Linked DNA regions of Homo sapiens: region 2 is linked to region 1. The links come from fine-mapping of genetic effects on gene expression. A gene starts in region 1. The other region holds a variant in brackets. All regions are shown on one strand. Distances are from middle to middle.

Region 1 (8,512 bases):
AGATGCCAGTTAATTTTACTCAGAGGCCGGGGGCAGTGGCTCGCGCCTGTAATCCCAGCACTTTGGGAGGCCGAGGTGGGCGGATCACAAGGTCAGGAGTTTGAGACCAGCCTGGCCAACACGGTGAAACCCCCGTCTCTACTAAAAATACAAAAATTAGCCAGCAGTGGTGGCGGGCACCTGTAGTCCTAACTACTCGGGTGGCTGAAGCAGGAGAATCACTTGAACTCGGGAGGCGGAGGTTGCAGTGAGCCGAGATCGTGCCACTCCACTCCAGCATGAGCAACAGAGTGAGACACTGTCTCAGGAAGAAAATAATTTTTCTTTTTTTTGAAACAGAGTTTCGCCCGTCGCCTAGGCTGGAGTACAGTGGCGTGACCTCGGCTCACCGCAACCTCCGCCTCCCGGGTTCAAGCGATTCTCCTGCCTCAGCCTCCCAAGTAGCTGGGACTACAGGCGCCTGCCGCCACGCCCAGCTAATTTTTGTATTTTCAGTAGAGACAGGGTTTCACCATGTTGGCCAGGCTGGTCTCAAACTGCTGACCTCAGGTGATCCACCCACCTCGGCCTCCCAAAGTGCTGAGATTACAGGCGTGAGCCACGGCGCCCAGCTAAAAAATTTTTTTTTTTATTCAGAGCTTATAACCTTTTAGGTGATTATAATTTTTTAAAAATTTTCCTCCTCTTGGAATACTTAGCAAGCTGGCGACTGCAGCCTGCCTTTACTGAGGGTACAGCCCTGTAAGTGCCCAACTGCATCCAATTCACAGCTTCTAGCTCACCAGTCCTCTTTAGCCGGTTCTATTCCCACGTGTAACCAGAAGCAAAGTCAAAGGGAAAGTGGATAGCAGGCTGTCACGCAAATCGCCTTGTCCTGGAAATCAAACCAGGCCACCCAAGAGGTAGGATGGCTCCAGGTTCTCCCCGGGAGAAGCCGCTCGGACAGGCGCTGTGCCAGAGGGCGCCGTGAGGCTCACTTACTGCGTCGTAACTTATCTGCAGCGTCCGCAGGTGCCTGTCTCCCAGAGACTCTCCATGAACCGCAAAGTCTGCGCTAGGACTCCCTGCCGGAGAGGCCGGAGACACGCGAGAATCAGTGTCACTCAACGCCCACGAGGGCAGAGACTCAGGCCCTGCCAGCTCCGACGGGGTGGAGAAAAAGGAAAGGTATGTGCTGCAGGGCGACGTGCCGGCAGGGACCCTCTCGGGGTGAGTCTGCTCGATGGCGGACGGCAGGTAGGCCCCACTCCATCCGGTGTCCTCATCCTCCTCCTCATCCAGGAGGTCACCAGCCCCTGTCGGATCCTCGAAAAATGGCTGCTGATACTCCAGGCCATACCCGCCGGTTTGGGAGGGTGGGGAGTTGTGGTCAAGTCCCAGGGAATGCCTCGAGGCTTCCTAAAAAAAAAAAAAAAAAAAAAACAATGGAGGCCATGCTTCTGACTCGGAGCGCATCTTCCTTTCTGTGTTCTGCCTCGCAACAAGAAGAAAGGCCCAATCTCTCTACCGGAAGGAGCCCAGCAGCTTCTGAGCCCAGAGCTGCTCCCCAGCACTGACGCCTGCCTGCTCTGCCACACTCATGCACGATTCCTCCAAAGGAGGCTGCAGAGGCCGGAACAGAAACGTCCCACAGAGCCATCGCCCACAGTGCCGTGGATTTACCTTTGCATAAATTCTGCTGGCCGGATCCTCTTTCGAGAGGCCGAGGTTCTTGGTCTTCAGAAACTCTCTAAAAGAGAATGGATTTGCCTCTTCCAGATCTTCAAATCTGTCATCTGAAATAACAGACATCACAAATGCATAAAGTCTACTGAAGAGCGTTGAAAGGGAACCTTCCTGTTCACCTGTCTTTCCAGAGCATGGCCACATGTGAGATCGGGCAGCCACGCTTGTCATTCTACCATGACTCAGGCAGCACTAGGAAGTGTGAAGGTGGCTGAAGGTGGGCAGTGACACAGACGTGCGTCTGCATTTGCAATCTTCTCCTTCCACCCCTCGGCCCCTGCTCCCACACTGTGCTGCTCACTAAAGCTCCCCTGGGGAGCTTTAAAACGACCCAAGCCACTCCACTGCACACACCCAGCTCCCTGGTGTGAGGTCAACCTGTGCTAGGAGCTCTCAAAGCTCCTCAGGTGGCCAGGTGTGGTGGCTCACGCCTGTACCCCAGCACTGTGGGAGGTCAAGGCGGGCGGATCACGAGGTCAGGAGACTGAGACCATCCTGGCTAACACGGTGAAACCTCATCTCTACTAAAAATACAAAAAATTAGCCAGGCGTGGTGGTGAGCGCCTGTAGTCCCAGCTACTCGGGAGGCTGAGGCAGGAGAATGGCGTGAACCTGGGAGGTGGAGCTTGCAGTGAGCCGAGATCGTGCCACTGTACTCCAGCCTGGGCGACAGAGCGAGACTCTGTCTCAAAAAACAACAACAACAACCAGCTCCTCAGGTGCTGCAACGCTGGGGACCCAGTGCCCCCTGACCCTCTTCCCGACTTTCCTACCTAGGTAGCCTAAATAACGCCCACTTTTCCCTTCTCCCTCTTGCCACCGCCTTCCCACCCTCCGGGGACTTAAGCAGCCACACTCGACCCTCCCAGCTGTGAGCCCCATGTAAAGCTGGCTCCTGTGGCCCCAGCCCCCCAGGTGGGGCTTCCCCGCTCCCTGATGTCACCTCGCTGCTACTCTAGGATCAAGACTGAACCCTTGAAATCCCACCCCCACCTGCTCTTTTGGGCTCCAGCTACACCACATAGCCAGTCACATTGACAGTCCCACCAGACACGTGCCTGGCACTGTGTTGGATGGAGACAAGAAGAAAAGGTTGCTGAACTACTCTACCTCCAAAATGTGTCCCGTGGGCTCCTGACGGGCTCTGCTTAGAACATTTCCCCTTTCCATAGCCAAAATCTGCAAAGAAACAATGTCACCCACCATGCTGGCAGGAAGTCTTTATGACCTCACATTTGGTTTTTTTCTTTTGCACATGGAGTCTCCACTGCAGTGGTTCTCACAGTCTAGAGAACTTTTTTTTTTTTTTTGAGACGGAGTCTTGCTCTGTCGCCCAAGCTGGAGTGCAGTGGTGCGATCTCGGCTCCCTGCAAGCTCCGCCTCCTGGGTTCACGCCATTCTCCTGCCTCATCCTCCCGAGTAGCTGGGACTACAGGCACCTGCCACCACGCCCGGCTAATTTTTTTGTATTTTTTGTAGAGACGGGTTTTCACCCTGTTAGCCAGGATGGTCTCAATCTCCTGACCTCATGATCCGCCTGCCTCGGCCTCCCAAAGTGCTGGGATTACAGGCGTAAGCCACTGCGCCCGGTCAGCCGAGAAAACTTTAAAAAAAACACAAGCTCCCAGACTTGTGACCCTGGAGATGGCCTGACTTGCAGACTGGCCCTGGTGTCCGTGGTCTGAAAGCGGCTCCTCAGCAGATTTTGAAGCCCAGCCGGGGCAAGCGCGTCCTCTTGTCTTGTGACAACCCCCGAATGTCCTCAGATCCTGGCATAACCACACAAACACTCCTGCACACCCCGGGCACCCAGCAGCACTTCTGCTTGGGTAGAACGAGGACGAACCAGATCTGGCCACTGCCCGGCTGTGGAGGCAGATGGAATGCTCCAGCTCGGTTTCCAATCACTGCCCACTAGGTGAAGGCACCCCGACTCCAGCCCCACGAGGAAAGCGGGCGGGCTCCTGTGCTCCCCGGGCACTAACCATCCTGTACTGGAACTGTCTGTCTTGGGGGAGGTCTCCCCGCAACCAGACTGTGAGCTCCTAGCAGGGGACTCCGCCTTTGAATTCCGAGTGCCTGGCACGCAGTGAGCGCTCTGCACATTGATGGGTCAATGGACGAGCTCGTGCTGCAGCGGAGGTGCCACACGTGGCGCGGGAACTGGAAGCGTCCCCGGGGCCGGCGCCCTCGTCTCTCACCTGTGTCTCCCACGGAAGCCAGCACCGGGCTGGGCACATAGCACATAAAGGCCGGCCGAATGCCGAAGAAGGGGGAGTCCAGGTCCCTGCCATGGGGGCGCTCACAATTTAGCTGGGGGAGACAAGACCGGCGCTCATAGAACGCTGGAGCTGGAAGCAACGACAACAGCGACTTTACTGCGTGCCGGGGCGGCCGCCGCCCACCTGGACCGCTGGACTCGGCCCCTGCCCCGCTCACCGTCGGGAATGGCGAGGCTCCGGGCTCGGGACAGCGGGGTGGCGCCCGGGCGGCGCTGGTAGCCCGACATCGCCGCCGGCCCGGCGGGGCACGACCTGCCTAGCCCGGCAGCGGCGGCTCCATGGCCCCGGCTCCGCCCGTGCCGCGGCCCGCGTCGCCCGCCCCCGTCGCCCGCCCCCGTCGCCCGCCGCTCGGCCGCCCCCGCGCCTCCGAGCCTCTCGCCGCTGCTTCCGCTCCGAGCACCGAAAGCGCGTGCCTGAACGCCTTGGGCCGTCGGCGAGGGGGAGGGGAAGCCGTGGGCGGAAGCGGAAGTGACGACTGAAGCGGGGCGGAGACGCAAGATGGCGGCTGTGGTGCTGGCGGCGACGCGGTTGCTGCGGGGCTCGGGTTCTTGGGGCTGTTCGCGGCTGAGGTGAGCCAAAGGCGAACCAGGCTTCGGCCTGGGGCGGGGGCGGCTCGAGTCTTTCTGGACGCTCCGTCTTCGGTTTCTACAGGTGACATGGCGCCCGTGGGACGGGCTCGCACTTCGGGACACTGGTGTCCCCGAGGCGACGGGGGCCCTGCCTTGCTTTGCGCCTCGAGCCCGGGGACGCAGTCCCATCTGTCTCTCCTCTCCCCGGCTGCTGGGTCCTCTCCCCCCCTCACTTCCCGGGTCGACGGGCCTTCTCCGAGGCCATGCCTCATATTTGCCCCCGCGCTTCACCTACCGCGTGCTCCTTCAGGAGGCTGAGCCGGTGGGGGCCCAGCTCTGTTAGACCCGCAGGGTTCTGACACCAGGGTCCAGGCTCTCGGTTGCTGCGGTCTGTCCGTTGATCTCTGACGTTTAAGAACCCTTTCCGTACCCACCGCTCCTCCCACCCAAGTGACCGGGCCTGCCTTTCCCCACGCTGGAACTTTGTTCCGACAGCACAGGCGTCGCCCCTCCCCACACAACGAGCGCCGTTTCAGGGGTGCGGAGGTGCTGCCTCCAGGAGATGGATACAGGCTGGAGCGTAAACAAAATATCGGCAGTCGCGTAAATGCTTTGGAGTAAACAAGCAGCCTTTCATGATAGAAAATAGCAGGAAAGACTAGACTGGTGAGGGATAGTCCTCCATCAGGGTGACATTTAAGGGAAGAGCTGAAGAATGAAAGAAGGGGTAGGCATGGGCAAAGGGCAAGCCCTGGAACGGTGAAGAAGCTTTGGGGTTGATGAGTCAAATGTGTTCCAGGAATTGACAAGAATCAGTGTGACCAGGACCTATGGGAGTGTGGGGGTTCAAGAGATGAGTTTGGAGAGGGAGACAGAGGCCAAGTCACACCCCGCCTTCGGACCAGGTTAATAAGGGATATGGCTTTTATCCAAGACTTCGGTGGTGCTGTTGGAGGGCAGAGCTGTTAAGTGCTTTATGTGTACAAACTGCACTTAGAGTGAGTTACTGTTAATAAGCCCTGTTTTTACAGAGATAGCAACTAAGACCCAAAGGACGGAACCAGCTTGCTCCAGGTCCCGTGGCTGAGCCTTTGTTGTCAGCCTCTGCTTTGTCTTCCAAAGTCTGTAGAAATAAGTCCTGTAGAAAGGCAGATGCTCACTTTTAACCCAGACAAAACATAACTAACCGCACCTAACAGGTCATCACAGGTTTGTTGTCTCAAGCCTGTTGTAACTGGGCCGCTTTCTCTGTTTTAGGTTTGGACCTCCTGCGTACAGACGGTTTAGTAGTGGTGGTGCCTATCCCAACATCCCCCTCTCTTCTCCCTTACCTGGAGTACCCAAGCCTGTTTTTGCTACAGTTGATGGACAGGAAAAGTTTGAAACCAAAGTAACCACATTGGATAATGGGCTTCGCGTGGCATCTCAGAATAAGTTTGGACAGTTTTGTACAGTAGGAAGTAAGTACTGTTGTGTTGTCGTGGGTGGTCCCGCAGTTTTAACATGCACATGCTTTAGTTGACTGTTAGTTGTAATTAGCATGCCAATTATGAATTGTACCCTGAGTGGAAACAAAGTGTACGATTTCATAAATGTTGAGCTACACATATACCTGTGAAACCATCAGCACAATCACCCTCATGTAATTAAATCTGATTATCATGTCATATTGACATCTTAAAATGTTTCTCTTGATTAAATCTTATTTTGAATATCTGATGTAACCTGTCAATTTTCTTTTTACTACTAGTTCTTATCAATTCAGGATCGAGATATGAAGCGAAATACCTTAGTGGAATTGCTCACTTTTTGGAAAAATTGGCATTTTCGGTCAGTACCCAGTTTTGTAATTTTTTAGACTATACTTTTGAAGGATGTTTGAGATTTTTCTTGTCTATAATGGTTATTTTAATAAATTATCAAGTTGCTAAGTTAATGTTAATAAAAGACTTTTAAGTTAAAAGATAATTTTTGTATGTGTGTTAAAAGCAAAAGTAGATTTTAAAAAAAAATTGTGTTTCAGGGATAGCCTGGATTGCTTATTTAGGTTTCCTTATTTATTTTTACTAGTCTACTGCTCGATTTGACAGCAAAGATGAAATTCTGCTTACGTTGGAAAAGCATGGGGGTATCTGTGACTGCCAGACATCAAGGTACACCAGCTTTTGTGTACAAACTGACTTTGGGTCCTTGGGAACTGACGTTCTTGTCGTTGCTCAGATTCCCTCTGAGCCCCTCCCAGCGGGAGGTGTGGAGATTCACGGGGAGAAGGAGCCCTGTCCTGGATGGAGACTTGGGTGGATGGCGCTTACACAGAGAAGCACAGCCCCCAGGAGCTCAGTTGACCCCCGTCAGTTCCTCCAGGCTGTTGGCTGCATGCCAGGGATGTAGAGCAGGCCCTGTTCCCAGATAGAGCAGAGGGCCTTGCATACGTAATGGACCCCGTAGCCAAAGGCGGTAGGAGCCAGGAGGATGAGTGGCTGACTTGGTCTGGAGTTGGGAAAGGAATCATAGGAAATGCAGGGTTGGGCTGGTTCCAGAAGGAGTTTGCTAGACACACGGGGCACAAGGCATTCCAGACCAGGAGACAGCAGGGGCAAAAGGCACCGAGCCAGGGAGGTGCCGGCTGCTTGGTGGAGGGAGGGGGCAGTGTTGCCTCGAGCACAGTGCAGTGGTCTTTGCATGCCAGGTGTGGAGCTTGTTCAGAAAGCACTGGGCAATGTGAGATGGGTGAATATAGATCACAGATTTTTAAAATTGTTGATTTAAGTTTGAATGCTAAAAAAATTACACATAAAAGACACATTAAATGCTAAGAATTAAAGTTAGCTTGGAGGTAACATATTCATGTTCTAAAACAAGGCCTCTTAATACCCCCTGACTCCCAGCTGCCCCTGCCAGGTTCCTGCCTGGTGTGTTTGATTCTCCGACTCTTGCCTCGAATCTCACTCATCCCAGATGAACTCCTTTCTCTGGCCAGGTGGCTGGTGTCCTGACTCAGACCCAGCCCCCCTCGCCCTCAGCTCAGGCTTTTGTTCTTGCCATTCTCCCCATGTGGAGAGCCAAAGTCACTGAGAATGGCTCCTCTTCAGGGTGAAGGTCCAGCCAAGTCCCCTCTTCAGAGGCACTGGTGACTGCGTCCTGCCTCCCAAGCTCCCTCTTCTTCGTGGCTGTTGCGTCTGCTCTGCATGGTCTCCCTTGATCACACTTGATCTCAGAGCACCCCATGATTTCGTGCCTGTCCCATGGGCCAGCTCTGTGCACTTCTGACTGTGCAGTGCCTCATGCCGGGAACAGATGTTACAGTGAGACAAGCTCCATACGAGCCAGCCATTGCTGTCCCCCAAGCCAGCCAAGGCCGGGCATGTTTCCACACTCACCAGTGGGTTCGTTCAGTCAACAGGAGGCTGGGATGAAACACTTCACCTTTTGAGAGAGAGTATAGTTACAAAAATCTGTATCAGAAGTGGCTCCATTTTGACTCAAGCTGTGTGTAGCTGTGAGTCCTGCCTACCAAGCATTCACACTGTAAGACAGGAAAAGAGAAAGGGGAAAAGTGTCTGCTGTTCCCCGATGAAGGGTAGGAGGTGTCCCCTGGCACGCAAAGCCCAAGCGTCCCTGAAATGTCTGCTGGGCCCCAACAAAAGGTAGGTGCCCCTGGCATGCAAAGCCCAAGTGTCCCCTGGCTGTTGAGCAGAGTGTGAGCTCAGGGCCTGGCATTGTCCACCTGGCACGCAAAGCCCGAGCGTCCCCTGGCTGTTAAGCAGAGTGTGAGTTCAGGGCCTGGCATTATGGGCTTGTGTTTTCTTCCAGAGACACCACCATGTATGCTGTGTCTGCTGATAGCAAAGGCTTGGACACGGTGGTTGCCTTACTGGCTGATGTGGTTCTGCAGCCCCGGCTAACAGGTGTGGATCCCAGCCGCTGGCGTTTGAG
Region 2 (8,000 bases), 22 kb before region 1:
CCCCAGCCTGGACGACAGAGCTTGCTCTGTCTTTATCTTGATCTCTTTTCTAAGAAACAAAAAACAAAAAAAAGAAACTAGAAGAACAAACTGTCAGCAACTTACCGACACCATATTTTTCTATTAATTCAATTAACTGTTCCTCTTCTTTTAAATTCCACCGACCCTTTTTCAAGCTGAAATGTAATCTCCTGAGATACCTGAACGTGACATGAAAAGCAAAGAACGTTTTAGATGCCGAGACGCCGCCCGCTGCTGCCCCAAGCTTCTTTAATGGTTTCTTGGATATGACACTAAAGGCGCAAGCAACAAAAGAAAACTACAGATAAAGTAGACTTCATCAAAAGCTAAAGCTTTTGTGTCCCAAAGGACACCATCAAAAAAGTAGAAAGTGTACAGGCTGGGAGAGAACGTTTGCAAGTCACGTGTCCGATAAAGGACTTATATCTGAAACATATGAAGAACTCTTACAAGTCAGTCATAACTAGACAAGTAATGTCAAAAATGGGCAAAGGACTTCAACAGACACTTCTCTAAAAACCTATTTCTATGAACAGTCACCAACCACATGAAAAGAGGCTCCACATCAGCCACAGGGAAGCGCACGTCAAAACCACAAGACACCACTTCACACCCGCTAAGATGGCTAGAATCACAGACAGATCACAAGTGCTGGTGAGAGTGTGGAAAACCGGAGCCCTCATACATTCCTAGTGGGAATACGAAATGGTTCAACCTCTTTGGGAAACAGTCTGGCCATTCCTCAAAAGGTTAAACACAGCGTTACCCGGACCGAGCAATTTCACTCGCAGGATATAGCTGAGAGAAATAAACAGATATCTATGTAAAAAAGTGCAAGCAAATGTTCAGAATGTTTTCAGGGTTCATCCATGTTGTATCAGAATTTACAGAAACGCGGTATTTATATGAGAATCCCACTCCCCCCCCTTTTGTTTTTTTTGAGACGGAGGCTCACTGTCGCCCAGGCTGGAGTGCAGTGGCGCAATCTCAGCTCGCTGCAACCACCAACTCCCAGGTTCAAGTGATTCTCCTGCCTCAGCCTCCCGAGTAGCTGGGATTACAGGTGCCCACCACCATGTGTGGCTAGTTTTTGTATTTTTAGTAGAGACAGGGTTTTACCATATTGGCCAGGCTGGTCTTGAACTCCTGACCTCATGATCTGTCCGCCTTGGCCTCCCAAAGTGCTAGGATTACAGGCGTGAGCCACCGAGCCCTGCCAACCCCTTTTTAAGGCCGAATAATATTCCCTTGTATGAAAATTTTATTTTCCACTCATCTGCTGATGAATGCTTGGGCTGCTTCCGGCCTTTCACTCTTGTGAATGATGCTGCTGTGGACATTGTTGTATCTGAGCTCCTACTTTCGATTCTTTTGGGTTTTATGCTTATCAATCTTGGGGGTATAATTCTATGTTTAACTCGCTGACGAACTGCCATGCTTTCCAAAGAGGCTGGACCATTTTACAACGCACAAAGGTTTCAATTTCTCGACATCCTTGCCAACACGGTGACTTTTTTTTTTTTTTAATTAACAGCCATCCCAACGCGTGTGTGGTTTTGACTTGCACTTCCCTAATGACTCATGGCGCCAGGCATCTCTTCATGTGCTCACTGGCCATCTGTGCATCTTCTTTGGAGAGACGGCCACTCAAGTTCTTTGCCCGCGATTAGATTGGGTTGTTTTTGTCGTTGAATGGCTTTTTCGGGTGATGAAATGTTTTACAATTGATTGTGGTGATGGCTGCACAGCTCAATGAATACTAAATACTAAAAACCACTGACCTCTACCTCTACACTTCATTTTTTTTTTTTTTTTTTTGAGACGGAGTTTCACTCGTCGCCCAGGCTAGAGTGCAATGGCGTGATCTCGGCTCACTGCATCCTCCGCCTCCCAGTTTCAAGCGATTCTCCTGCCTCAGCCTCCCGAGTAGCTGGGATTACAGGCATGTGCCACCACGCCCGGCTAATTTTGTATTTTTAGTAGAGACGGGGTTTCTCCATGTTGGTCAGGCTGGTCTCAAACTCCCAACCTCAGGTGATCCGCCGGCCTCGGCCTCCCAAAGTGTTGGGATTATAGGCGTGAGCCACTGAACCTGGCCTTCTACACTTCATTTTAATTAATTAATTAATATTTTTTTGAGACAGTCTTGCTCTGTCACCCAGGCTGGAGTGCTGTGGCGTGATCTCAGCTTACTGCAACATCCACCTCCCAGGCTCAAGCGATTCTCCTGCCTCAGCCTCCCAAGTAGCTGGGATTACAGGCGCCACCCCCACCATGCCCGGGTAACTTTTGTGCTTTTAGTAGAGATGGGGTTTCGTAGAGACGGGGTTTTGACCTGGCCTCAAGTGATCCGCCTGCCTTGACCTCCCAAAGTACTGGGATTACAGGCGTGAGCCACTGCGCCCAGCTTCGGAAATATACACTTTAAATGAACGCATCGCATGGTGTGTGAATTATCTCAACGAAGCTGTTTTTGAAAGGAAAATAAGCAGGAAAAGGAGGGAGCTGCAGCTGTGTGCCCAGAGGTCCTGCCTATCAGCATTCTGAGAGAACTGAGACAACTAGGGTCAGGAAAAGCCGCCCAGGGAGCTGTCTCAAGTGGAGCCCATGCGTTGCTCCGGCAGACAGCAATACAGAAGTCAGGCTTGGAAAACACAGCTCAGCCGGGCCAACCCTGGCAAGCAAGCGCCCACAGCCCACACCAGAGTGCACCTGGTCAGCGACCCACACGGGCCCCTCCCTCGCCCAGCGCTGGCCGCTGTCCCCCAGCCCGCCCACAGCCCACACCAGAGTGCACCTGGTCAGTGACCCACACGGGCCCCTCCCTCGCTCAGCGCTGTGCGACTCACCGATCTCGGCACTGGGCATCGCTCCTACCTGGCACCTCTTCCCGGATTTTAAACCAATCCTGCTCCCCGTATTTGGCAACAGCTTGAAGCAACTTCTGCAGGAAGGGACAGGCAGACAAGTGAAGCCTCTGCAGGTACGGCTGCAGCCTCCCCACCCTGAACCCAGTCAGAGAAGGGACCACTGGGGCACAGCAGCCGCTGAACACAGCCGCGTTACCTTCCCAGAGCCCAGTTCTCCTAGGGTCCCGCACACTTACAGCATCTTCCTCCGGGGCCCAGTAACCCTTCTTCAGACCAGGATCCAAGCTCTTGGTCCATCGGTAGATCAGCTGCATGGAGTCTCTCCCTTCCATATAGTAGACAACTAGGGACAGAGGAACAGGGAGGTCCTGTGGGGCCGAGACACACACCCTCCATAGAGTAGACAGCTAGGGACAACAGGGTCCCGTGGGGC[C/T]GAGACACCCACCCTCCAGATGGGTCACATAGAAAAGAATCACTTTGGCCAGGTGCAGTGGCATCATGCCTGTCATCCCAGCACTTTGGGAGGCAGAGGCTGGCGGATCACCTAAGGTCAGGAGTTCGAGACCAGCCTGACCAACATGGTGAAACCCCGTCTCTACTAAAAATACAAAATTAGCTGGGCGTGGTGGCGCATGCCTGTAATCCCAGCTACTTGGGAGGCTGAGGCACGAGAATCGCTTGAACCCGGGAGGCAGAGGTTGCAGTGAGCCAAGATCATGGCGTTGCACTCCATCCTGGGCAACAAGAGTGAAACTCCATCTCAAAAAAAAAAAAAAAAAAGTCACTTGAGTCACCAAGAAGCGAACTGTGGAACAGCCAGGACTGTCTAAGCCCTCGTCTGTCTTGTTGCTTCTCTGTGAATTTTCCCTGCAAGTCTCCAGTGTCCTGATATGGGGCCCTGTGACAGCCTGAGAGCCGTCGGGGTGGAGGGGCCTCACTTCTGCGGTAGGGGATGTGGCTGCCGACGCGCATCTCCTGCACCAGCTGCGTGAGCATGCGGTCCTCCTCCTCTGTCCACTCCTTGCGTTTCAGAGCTTTGTTGTGCTGCTGGAATTTCTGCAGGCACTGGAAGGCGCTGCGGCTGGTCTTCCCAGGCCCAAACAAAAGCAAATGAGTGTTACTGCGCGGCAGGATGTCCAGATCTGGCTCTGAGTGCCCCAGGGCACAGGTGGGCCCATGAGCCACTGGGGTGACCCTTCTGCAGACCCCAGCTCTCCTCCTCCCAGACTCCTGTGGGCTGATGGAGAGCACCCCACGGTAGGAAGACAATACACTCACTAAATAGGACCAGGAAGGACCAGGTGAGAGAGGAATCAAACCTTCACTTAAGAAAATATTAAGAAAAATTCACAATAGGTAAACTGATATGACTCCAAAACCACACTGCAACTCACTCAACAGAAACTCCCAGCTTGGCAAGGGCTGGGAGACGCACTGCTCTGCATGTGGCATGCTCTCTAAATGCAGTTGCTAGCACCTTCTCTCCCTTCTCGAGCTCTAGAGTATCTCTCAGCTAAGGGGTATGGGGTGGAGGAGGTACGGGACAGCCCTTGGTTTGGTGTCCATGTCTCAGGAGACGCCCTCAGAAGAGAGTGCCCCAAAATGACTCTCCCAGCTTCCCTGTGTGGCTCGGCTCAGCAAACCCACCCTCAGTCCACACAGTGGACCATCTGCCCAAATCTTTTCCTCACTCATCTTCTCAAGGGGTTTTCCAAGAGCTGATGAGTGCTACCTGAACCCTGTTCTCTGAAAGTGAGCTGCTGGGTGGCACAGGGCACACAGGGCTAGATATGCTCTGAGGTTTGCTTTTTCTGAAAGTGAGCTGCTGGGTGGCAGAGGGCGCGTGGGGCTGGACGTGCTGTGAGGTTTGCTTTTTCTGAAAGTGAGCTGCTGGGTGGCAGAGGGCACGCAGAGCTGGATGTGGTGCCGCTGAGCTGTGAGTTTTGCTTCCAAGGCTTTCTTCCCCACCAAGTCCTTCCCAGCTCGCTACATCACAGGTCTATCTGAGACTCGTTCACCACAAACAAAACCACCACCCCGGGGTGTGCAAGCTGCAGGGCAATCCTAGTCAACGTGTGTGAGCCTCGCCCGCACGCCCCCAAGAGAGTGCTTCTGGGAACATAACACACTCAAGGCCTCACCCGTCCTCCTACACTCAAGCTGGCGCTTCCCAACCAGTGGAAAGAGAGACCCTTCTCACACCCATCCCAAGCCTGCCGAAGGAGTTGGGAAGGCAAAGGACTGGGGGGTGGGGCGGGATTCAGAGCTGGGCCCTGCTCGGGTAGCTGAGAGCAGCAGCTCTCAAAGGGGGCTGGAGGGTGGCTGGAGTGAAGCTGGAGGGAGGCTGCTGAGGCCTTAGCCTGGCTTTTCTTGACAGTGACTAAAAACACTTCCCTGGAAGGAGAAAGAATCTGGCGGGGGAAAGTGCTGGCGTCACGCTTTCTGATATTAACAGAGAAGCATGTCTGACTATGTGTTCGAAGGAGAAAAAGCCATTAATGGATGGAAGACAGTTGAATTCCCAAAAATCACAAGGAGAAAAACCGGACTTACAGTTTCATCAAACCAGCAAGACAGAGTGGAAGGAAAAGAGGCCACAAAGTAAAACGGACTCGACACACCAGACCCAGGAGGACACCAGGAACACCCACCCTCCCACAAAGCCAGAGGCTGGTCAGGCGGGTGGGAAAGCAAAACCCAGCTGCACGCTGCTTTCATGAAAACACTTGGAAATGACGATTTGTTAAAAGGCTGAAAATACAGGGATGGGCCGGGCGCGGTGGCTCACGTCTGTAATCCCAGCACTTTGGGAGGCTGAGGCCGGCAGATCACAACGTCAGGAGACTGAGACCATCCTGGCTAACACAGTGAAACCCCGTCTCTACTAAAAATACAAAAAATTAGCCGGGCGTGGTGGTGGGCGCCTGTAGTCCCAGCTACTCGGGAGGCTGAGGCAGGAGAATGGCGTGAACCCGGGAGGCGGAGCTTGCGGTGAGCTGAGATCGTGCCACTGCACTCCAGCCTGGGCGACAGAGTGAGACTCTGTTTGAAAAAAAAAAAAAAAAAAAAAAAAGGAAAGAAAAAGAGCTAATGAGCTAACGCAAGCTGGGCTGAATCCCTGGGTGATGGGCTGATCTATGCAACAAACCACCATGGCACACGCTCACCTACGGAACCAAACTGCACATCCTGCACACACAGCCCTGAACTCAAAAAATATGAAAAACAAAAAAGAAAAAAAGAAAGCAGACCCCGATTAAAAAAAGTTATGTGTACCAAACTATGTAGCAGTAAAATATACATAGAAGAAAAACCGATTTGTATTTATTTATTTATTTTTTTTTTTTTTGAGACGGAGTCTTGCTGTCGCCCAGGCTGGAGTGCAGTGGCGCGACGTCCGCTCACCGCAAGCTCCGCCTCCCGGGTTCACGCCATTCTCCTGCCTCAGCCTCCCGAGTAGCTGGGACTACAGATGCCCGCCACCACGCCCGGCTAATTTTGTATTTTTAGTAGAGACGGGGTTTCTCCATGTTGGCCAGGCTGGTCTTGAACTCCCGACCTCAGGTGATCCGCCAGCCTCGGCCTCCCAAAGTGCTGGGATTACAGGGGTGAGCCACTGTGCCCGGCAGAATTAAGCATCTTTAAAGGCAAACTCAATTTAATAGCTGATATAGAGTAGGCCCTACTTACAGAGAACATACCTTTTTCTTAAAAACAGTTTTGGCAAGTTTAGCTGGGTCTGCTATAATCAGGTGCTCTGCCATAAAAAAGTAAAATATATTTGAAAAATGGAGATTTTATACATCTCGCCCCTAGTTCATGTTCCAATCAAATTCAGATAAAGAACCACCACAAGAACTCCCAGAAATCCAACTATTTAAAAACGGAAACATACACTCCTAGATACACCTAGGTCCAAAGAGGCAATAAAAATGGAAACTAGAGCTACTTTGGAAATCTATGAGAAGAAGAGTTCACGCCAAGCTACTCTCAGGGTGGCCTAACAAGCCTCGTTATCAAGACAAGAGACCCAAGTCAGTAAAGAACTGAGTCCTTACTCAGGAAACCAGAAAAGCGGCAAGAACTCACACGAGGAAAAAGCGCTTTAGAAACATCAACAGAATAAACTCCCGAGGCTGATGGAGACAGAAGAAGACTAGAAATAAGAAAGGAGACAAACTCCGGTAAACTGGGCATGCACCGCTGCATGGGGAGACCTGGAGGACTGGGAAGGCCCAGAGGAGCTGCGGCAATGGCCTAGTGGCAGAGAGGGCTGGGCAGGCTCCTTCCCTAGGGCCACAGCCTGGAGGTGGCAACACATAGAAACCTGGCGGTGAGTGAGCACTGGGGACCCCGCACCCGTCCAGCAGCCTCCCGCTATAGGGCCCACACGCCCTCAGGTCTCCTGGCCCCTGGGGTCCAGGCCAGGCCCTTACCCCCAGCTCCTCTGCAATCTTCTGCCACTCCAGGTGGCCGTGTGCAGCCGCGATCGCCTGCAGCCGCTCCTCCTCCTCCCTGCTCCACTCCTGCTTGTTGATGCTGGGGTGCTCCGAGTTCTGCCAGAACTTCCGGATCTCCTCTGCACTGCGGCTGCCTTCAAACTGCACCGACAGAGACACTCAGCCTTGCAGGCCACTGACCCCAGGGGCACCCTAGACGCAGCTCCAGGCTGAGCTGTTGCTCTCCGCCAGCTGGAGGCTTCCACGGCTGCAAGTAAGCGCAATCTTCGTCCAACTCACTAGGCCTTGCATAGCCAAACATGTAGACTTGGCTCCAGATGCAAGGCCGGGAGCCCTCCAGACCATCTCAGAAAGGGCCGTGCACCAGCCTGAAGGCCCTCGTGAGTCCACTCGCCATTCCCGACTGTGGGACATGTGCTTGACCCGGGTGGGTGGGGGGTCACAGCAGAACCTGTTGCCAGGGAGGGTGTGGCCTTACCACCCAATTCCAACTGCACCCGGGCTACAGGGAGCTGTGCTCCAAGCTGCTTGGGGCTCAGACCTGCCCCTGACTTACGTTAATATTGGAAATCTTCTCCCAGTCGTGGCTGTCCAGCCTGTTTCCCAGCAAGGCCTCTTCTGGAAGCTGGCTGGTGGAAGGGATGAGGGT

Evidence for each region. PIP is the estimated chance that this variant, and not a neighbour inherited with it, causes the effect.
Region 2: its variant is the best candidate, but not a certain one, in a credible set for the expression of ENTR1 in lung (TOPMed, PIP 0.82).

What each region holds. Positions count from the first base shown.
Region 1 is chr9:136,406,164-136,414,675 of GRCh38, forward strand. ENTR1 (endosome associated trafficking regulator 1) reads right to left here and starts at 4,451. Exons shown (of 10, transcript NM_001039707.2): 1 at 4,165-4,451; 2 at 3,927-4,076; 3 at 2,836-2,904; 4 at 1,663-1,775; 5 at 982-1,398. The coding sequence starts at 4,234. It overlaps PMPCA (peptidase, mitochondrial processing subunit alpha), which reads left to right and starts at 4,495. Exons shown (of 13, transcript NM_015160.3): 1 at 4,495-4,576; 2 at 5,834-6,036; 3 at 6,327-6,406; 4 at 6,647-6,729; 5 at 8,390-8,484. The coding sequence starts at 4,506. RefSeq lists enhancers at 760-1,348, 3,554-3,713, 4,564-4,653, 4,684-4,733 and silencers at 4,074-4,123, 4,264-4,353.
Region 2 is chr9:136,384,615-136,392,614 of GRCh38, forward strand. SNAPC4 (small nuclear RNA activating complex polypeptide 4) reads right to left here. Exons shown (of 24, transcript NM_003086.4): 9 at 7,908-7,980; 10 at 7,328-7,492; 11 at 3,830-3,977; 12 at 3,128-3,234; 13 at 2,871-2,965; 14 at 106-200. Among named protein-coding and RNA genes, the nearest start is that of SNAPC4, 12 kb to the right of the region's middle. The variant C/T (reference allele first, on the strand shown) is at 3,325.